2 linked regions of the Homo sapiens genome follow. The protein of the gene in region 2 interacts with the protein of the main gene of each other region in a pairwise test. Each region holds a gene or a part of one and is shown on either strand. Other genes may lie near its edges.

What was found.
Region 1: the proteins of SMAD5 (region 2) and POU6F2 interact in binary tests that used the Homo sapiens proteins (3 or more experiments, as listed by UniProt).

The regions. Positions count from the first base shown.
Region 1 is NC_000007.14:39,337,909-39,341,565, forward strand, and holds part of POU6F2 (POU domain, class 6, transcription factor 2), read left to right. Parts: exon of another isoform or gene 1-1,212; intron 1,213-1,733; coding exon 1,734-2,107; intron 2,108-3,657. UniProt on the Homo sapiens protein: Probable transcription factor likely to be involved in early steps in the differentiation of amacrine and ganglion cells. Recognizes and binds to the DNA sequence 5'-ATGCAAAT-3'. Isoform 1 does not bind DNA.
Region 2 is NC_000005.10:136,149,791-136,153,447, forward strand, and holds part of SMAD5 (mothers against decapentaplegic homolog 5), read left to right. Parts: intron 1-2,884; exon of another isoform or gene 2,885-2,968; intron 2,969-3,657. UniProt on the Homo sapiens protein: Transcriptional regulator that plays a role in various cellular processes including embryonic development, cell differentiation, angiogenesis and tissue homeostasis.

The DNA.
Region 1 (3,657 bases), on a different chromosome or scaffold from region 2:
GGGACCAAGGCTCATTAGTAGGTTAGGGTCTGCTGTACCTACCCGTCTGCCAACATCTATCTGCCAATATTCCCAGACTTTCCTGTTTCTAAATGCTGATTTAGATAAATGCTTTTCTAACCAAAATGAAGCAGTATGGTATTTAAGTCAACCATGGAAATAAGCATTAACATATGTGCCCCCACCTGAAAGACATCAGGTTAGGTTCGATTTGAATCAGGCAGGAGGCCAGATGCAATCAAGTCCCTGAAGTCTGGAACTCCACCAGAAGAAGAGATCAGGCTCCCCTGCCCCAGGATCCTCCAGACTGCAGAAGATCTAGGGAGGTCAGAATAGAGCAGGGCTCCCACATCTTTGATAAAATGTGATTTTGTAAACTAGAAGAAAGGGGGAAATGGCAAAAGCAGGCCTTTCTCTAAAAGGTCTAATAAACGGGATGATGCCGGGGTACTTTCCAGGCCTCCCTCATGCCATCTCTATCTCTACGATTACATCACAAGCCCCAGAACACCCTGGCTCTACACGCAAGGCAGGCCACACACTGGACTGCTTGCATAGACCTAGAGCAGTTCAGTGGCTCAGTGAGGACTTGCTATCCCAACTGGACCAAGTTGGAAGCCCTACATGGTATGTGAGATCACAGAATTGGTATTTGATACCCCTGGAAATGGTTGCATCGTCATTTCACCAATACAGCTACACTTTCCTCTAAGGCCTGTGGGTTTGACATTGATCCTTATATGTTTATTTGTTCATGGGCTTGTTAGAAAGCTTTTAGATTGAGATTTAGGCAAAAAAGAAAGTGAACTTGGTTTTTAGCCGTAAATTTCTCTAGACCATTCTTAGGTCAAACTAACCAGCTTCCTTCTGCAGAAATTGTTCAGTGCTACATGGGCATGTGAGAACAAATTTTGCGTGCTCAGTGCTAAGACACTTTCTCCCACCAACTCTACCTTTCTCATAACAAGATCTTAAAAGATGATTTCATTCCCTCAGTCCTTAGGTGCTGTCCTGTCCTCAGGTGCTGATGTCTAATCACCACACTGTTTGGTTCAGTCACCTGCTATCATCCCTCCAGTTTAGGGGTTCTGTCTCTTTAATCAGCAGGCAAAAAATTCAGACTCAGGCTTTTGACCCTGCAAAATGGAGAAGCATGTACTGCTTTTGAATTTTTAAAAAAAAAAAAAAACAGTTAGAAATTTGACACTAAGACATCTAAGCAACTGGGTGGAGATCTGAAGTAGCAAGTGAAAATGATACCATTAATGATATTGATGATGGATGTAAAGGCAATTGCAAACAATTGGTTTTTTGTTCTTAACTCCAGTCAAACACTTACCAAAACAACTAAACTGGTTGGACTTCAACAATCTAAATGAAATCTTGAAGCATGAATGTATTTCCCATGCAGTATGGAAAGGAAGAGAGAGAGAAAGTAGTTAAAAAACAATCTCCATTCCTACCACACACCTTTGGCTTGCATTGTTCACCACCTTTTAAAGTAATGCCTGATGTGTTATATGCTGGTCCTCCAGAAATTCTAAACTTTCCCCAGAAGTGACCTTTGTTCTCCCAGTGCCTCACAACACTCTTAAATACCAAAGAGCTTCAGGGGGCAAGGACAAGAATTTTCTAAAGGAAACCCTTCTCCACTTGCACTGGACAGGCTGTCAAGACCCAGCAAGACACTTTGTCATGTTATCTCACTCCACATTCGCTTTCTCTCCTTGTAGCTACCTCATCCCTGAACTCCCAGCTCCAGCAGCTCCAGCTCCAGCTCCAGCAGCAGCAGCAGCAGCAGCAGCAGCAGCCTCCCCCGTCAACCAACCAGCACCCGCAACCAGCCCCACAGGCGCCCTCGCAGTCCCAGCAGCAGCCGCTGCAGCCCACCCCACCCCAGCAGCCACCACCCGCCTCTCAGCAGCCGCCAGCTCCTACATCTCAGCTGCAACAGGCGCCTCAGCCCCAGCAGCACCAACCCCACTCCCACTCCCAGAACCAGAACCAACCATCTCCAACCCAGCAGAGCTCCAGCCCCCCGCAGAAACCTAGTCAGTCTCCAGGACATGGCCTGCCTTCACCGCTCACGCCACCCAATCCTCTACAGGTATGCTCCCCGTGCTTCCCGTCTGCCCCTAGGAGCACCAAGGACCTTTCCATGGGGTGGTGCCATCCCCAAAGGCAGAGGGACCACACAAAACTTAGCATCCAGTTCTGCAGCATCTAATTCAAATTGATCTCTTAGACATAGGGAAGAAGAAGCAACTAGAAGGCAACTGGGGATGCATGTAAACGAAACAAATAGAAGCCCATTTCTGTTGCCCTCCAAAGGATAAATGTTATCTGTTTCCTTCTGTGAGAGGCCAGCACTATAAGTGCATTTGGAGCCTGTAATAATTCCATTTTATGATACTTTTTGAAGGCAGCAAAGATAGCATCCAATTAAAATTATTACTAGCACAGTTTTGTAGCCCCATGGAGAACTGCATCTACTGTCCATGAGGCATGGTGGTTATTTCTCTATATTATGAATACAACAGTGTCTCACCTTAAGTACTTTGTGCTCTTTTGTTTCTATTTTTCTAAAGACTCTCTGGGGTTAGGAGGGCAAAGAAATTTAGCCCCAGTCTTATGTCCCAGATTCCAACCATTACTCCACAGACTAACAAGTACTCTAAATTCATGCCAAGAGCCTCAACCAATATGCATCTTTATAAAGGAATAAAACTTCTATAGGTTTACTTTATTACTGTGAGGCTGAGAGCTTCATAAATAGATATTTCAGGCTAACCATGAGAGCTCATCTATAACCTACCTATTGAGAAGGAATGGATAGGTGCATTCATATATATATATATATATATATGACTTTAAACTTCAGAAAACCATTTTTAACTTAGGTGTCTTTAAAATAAATTAGCTTCAAAACATAATGACTGTGATGTCATCATATCAGATCCAGAAATTAATAACTCAGCCAAGCCATCCATTCTTTGACTTGCACAATGACATTTTTCCCTGTGAGATTTCAGACAATCTCGTGTATTTGTAGTACTGTGACAAAGTTAAACAGAGTGAGCAGCCTGTGGACCTGTTTCAAGTGCCATCTCATCCCCTTGCCATAGTGGTGGGTATAAACCTCAGTCAGTCCGGCTCTCCCCAGCCTGAGAATGACAGTAGCGATGGTATCCTTGGCTCCTAAATAGAAAAGTATACAAAATAAAGACAGGTTGGTACACGGACAGAAAGGCAGGTGGATTAGAGACTTGGTATTTTAGAACTTAGTTTGTTGTCCCATAGCTTTGTCTCTTCCAATTTGGATTCTCAGTGGTGTGGCCCAAAGCATTCCTAGAAATGAACACATTTGGGAGAGATGAGTCATTGTGTTTTTCTGGGCTCTTGGGCCAGGGCTACTTTCAATTTGAACATTTTCATGAGTGGAGTTTCAAGATGTATTTATACAATTCTTACGATGGTGAGACAACGTAACACCTTTGACCTAGGACTAAAATGAACATGGTCCAAAAACGTCTTCATTGTCCACTTGACACCTACTGAAAGAGCAGGTGTCATCAAATTTACAGAAGGCATGATTACAGCAACCTTAATGTTGGCAGCATTTGGGATTCAACTTTATTATTCCAAAAAATTAATTTA
Region 2 (3,657 bases):
ATCAAAAGTGCTAAGTTTTTTAGTCATTCCATATTTAAAGAGTTGAGTGTGAGATTTGCTCCTCTCCCTGTGCTAGTTTTACTAGTAAGAGTTCTAGGTTTTTAAAACTGACACCTATTGTTCTTTTTGAAACCAATCTCTTGAAGTTTAGTGGCATACCCATTCACCAAAGTCACTGGCCTTTTCTTTGTTTACATTCTCTTTAAACTCTCCCATATGTTTAATCTTCTGCAGTACCATTGTATCTAGTTCTGTCTTTTTAATAGTGCATTATCAGTAACTCACTATCAGGAAACTCTTTCCTAACAGTGAATGTTTCGTAATATTTAGGTGTTTACTTACTGTTCTTTTCACTCTGTTGCAAACTTTTTTTTTTTAGCTCTTTGTGCAAAATCTTAAATCTGTTTCTCATCTTTACCTGGCTAAACCTGTATCTCCAGTCATGACCTTTTCCCAGTGGAGTTTACCACCATTTCTACTGACAAAGCTGCCTTCTGAATGTTTTTAATTCTGTGGGTAGAATTCTCATTTTATCATTATCTTAGTCAACGTGGGTTTAAAATTTGAAATTATCTCTTAATTTCAAGGTACAGTTAGTAGAAAAATCAGTGACCATTCATTAAGTATCATAGTGTGTGGTATGGCACATGCAATGGTCCAGGTGCTGAAGACTACTTCTTAGAAGGATTTTGTACTGTATTTGGGAAGTTATGATATTATTTATGACTTATTAATTAGTTTTTATTATAAATATTCAGTGACCATAGCCTCTTCAGCATTGGGTGGTAAAGGAAGTCTTCACAAAAGGGGATAGATTGGAGCTCATCATTAAGAATGACTAAGATTTCTCTTGGAAGACACAGATGGGCAGAGGGGCAGGGATTTGGATTGGATCAGAAGGTGTGTATAGTGGAAGAGTAATGGGCAAGATTAGATTAGGACTAGATCTAGCCAGTCTCTTAAGTCTTGGTTCGTCTTCTTTCTGAATGCTAATGATTAGAATTCATGTTTGAATAGTACTGTTGAGTTTGTAAAGCTTGTGTTAGATAGACATTAGTACTTTAATATTTCTGTGACTTAGGAACCATCATCTCTATTTTACAGAAAAGTTAATAGGCTTTGAAAAAGTGATACTAGTAAAGAACAGAATCTGGTGGGCACAGTGGCTCAAGCCTATAATGCCATCAACTTGGGAGACTGAGTCTGGTGTGTTTCATTTCCAGGCATATTTTTATTCTCTGATATCATAGATATCTATAAATAACAATTTTTTTGTTTTAAGTTTGATATAGACATCCTTAGAAAGGTATATATATTTTTACAAATTGTTTTTCTTACTCATTTATTTGATAAATGGACACTATTCTAGGTCCAGGGCATCCAGTGGTTTTGAGGGCAGACGAGACTACCTGCATACTAACATTGCATTGGGGAAAACAAAGTAAATAAACAAAGTTGATAATGTAATATCAGATTAGGGTAAATGCTATAAAAAATGAACAGGGTCAGGGGATAGAGAATGTTGTGAGAATGGGCTGTCATGCTATTTTCAATCAAGTGGTCAGGGAATTCCTCTTTCAGGAGGTGACCTTTGAACAACTGAATTAATTTGAGTGAGTATGCTGCGTTAAGTTACGGGAGAAGAGAATTTAGGGGAGAGAACATCAGATGCAAAGACCTCACATAGAAATAACCTTAGAATACTTGAGAAATGGAAAGAAGTTAAGTGTGGTTAAATGCAATTAGGTAGGATAATGGTTAAGAAATGAGTAAGGAGAAGCCAAGGGCCTGATCATGTATGATATTGTATTCAGAATTCTGGTCTTGAAGCTCCTGTCTTTTTGCCTCCCTCTTCCTTAACTGTCTCTCTGTTGCTCATACACATACTCTCTCACACATACGTACACTACCCTATCTAGCCCCCCATTATATTCTAGTGTTCATGAATCAGTCAGCCAGGCCTGTCTCTTATCTAGCCTAGGAAATGCTATGTTCATGTCTGCCTATATATATATTTTTTTGTTTGTGTGCCTTTGCCTTTGACATTTCCCATCTCATCTCAGACAACCAAACCATGGTTTTACTTCCTGACCCACATGGATTTTATCATACATCCTTGATGTAGATGCAACTGAGGTCAGCCCTTCTTACAGTTCATTTAGTACATAACACTTTATACTCTGTGACCTGTTAGTGACAATTATGCTTTCATTCTCTTTGTTATATCTCTCTATTTTAATGTGGCCAGTTTTGTTTGCCTAGGAAAAATCATCCTACATAGGGCTGGGCAAGACAAGGCACAAGGCATATCCATACATAAGGAGGATATCTTTACTTCCCTGTACCCTTCCCCACCATGGTTCCAGCATAGAAGGCTGGATAGCTGCCAGTAGTTGATCGGCATCCAGAACTGTATCTGGTACTTTAGTAGGCTCTCAGTAAGTGTATTTTGAATGAATCAGTTTATTGACTGTTGAGATTAAACCCTACTTGGCATAACTTTTTTTAAAAAGCCCCATCATGGCTATTCACAATACATGGGATGTAACAAAGAATCAATAATTATTTGTTGAGTGTATGTCAGTTTTACTTTACTCTGTGTTTACATTATCTTTATTTACTTTATGTTATTGTCTGGGCTTTAGCTGAGCACATACATTCTTTTCTGGAAAGATGCACCCCAGTCCAGAATAATATTGATGCTAGAATTTTTCAAAGACAAAGCTATAGCTTTTGGCAATTGTAGGCACAAGAAAGGAAGCATCTTTTGTTACACCATTTTTCCAAACGTTATTCTTGTTACTTTAGTAGGTATTTATCGTCTGTGGTTGGCTGTGCAGCGATCTGCAGGAGATCTTACACATTCTTTTTATTCTTTATTTAGAAATGGGATCTCACTATGTTGCTCAGACTGGACGTGATTGAACTCCTGGGCTCAAGTGAGTCTCCCGAATAACTGGGATTACAGGTGTGTGCCACTGAGCCTGGTTTTTACCAGCTTCTATCGGTGGAGTGCCTGTCACTTCCACCTGTCATCATCAGGAGCTTCTTAATGGTGCAGAACAGTGGTTTACCTGGAGCAAGCTCATTAACCAATATAAAATATCACTTAAAATAAGCCGATAGGAATTATAAAATTAGAAACTGACCCTTTTAAAATGAATTTATTCTCTTTAAATTTATTCAACATACTTAGTTTTACAAATAGATACTTGCCATTTTACTGGCAGTTATAATGATTTATTTGAGGGTTTGGTACATCTTATACAACCGTGAATACAATTTGCATCTAATAATGTGACTTCAGTAGTATCATGATTTTTGTCCAAACCTTCTCAGTCTGGGAAACATTTAAAGAGAATAATGACCTTAGAGAAGAGCTGGATTTCTTTTAAGACTTCTATTCAGATCAGGACACAATCACGTTCAAAATTGACATAGCATGTAACATGGATTTCAGTGAAGAAAAGTACTTCAGAATCAAATTTTAGAAGAGTGTTTTAGGGTTTAGTGGCCTAATCAAAGGGAGTCCAGAAGCTATTTTTGGATAATACATAGGAGGTAGAGCAACCTGGTTTTGCCTCTGGTTATCATTTGACATTGCCAGTGTCTTACTTGTTCATATTATGGGGAAGGAATCGAGTGGTCACAGAACTT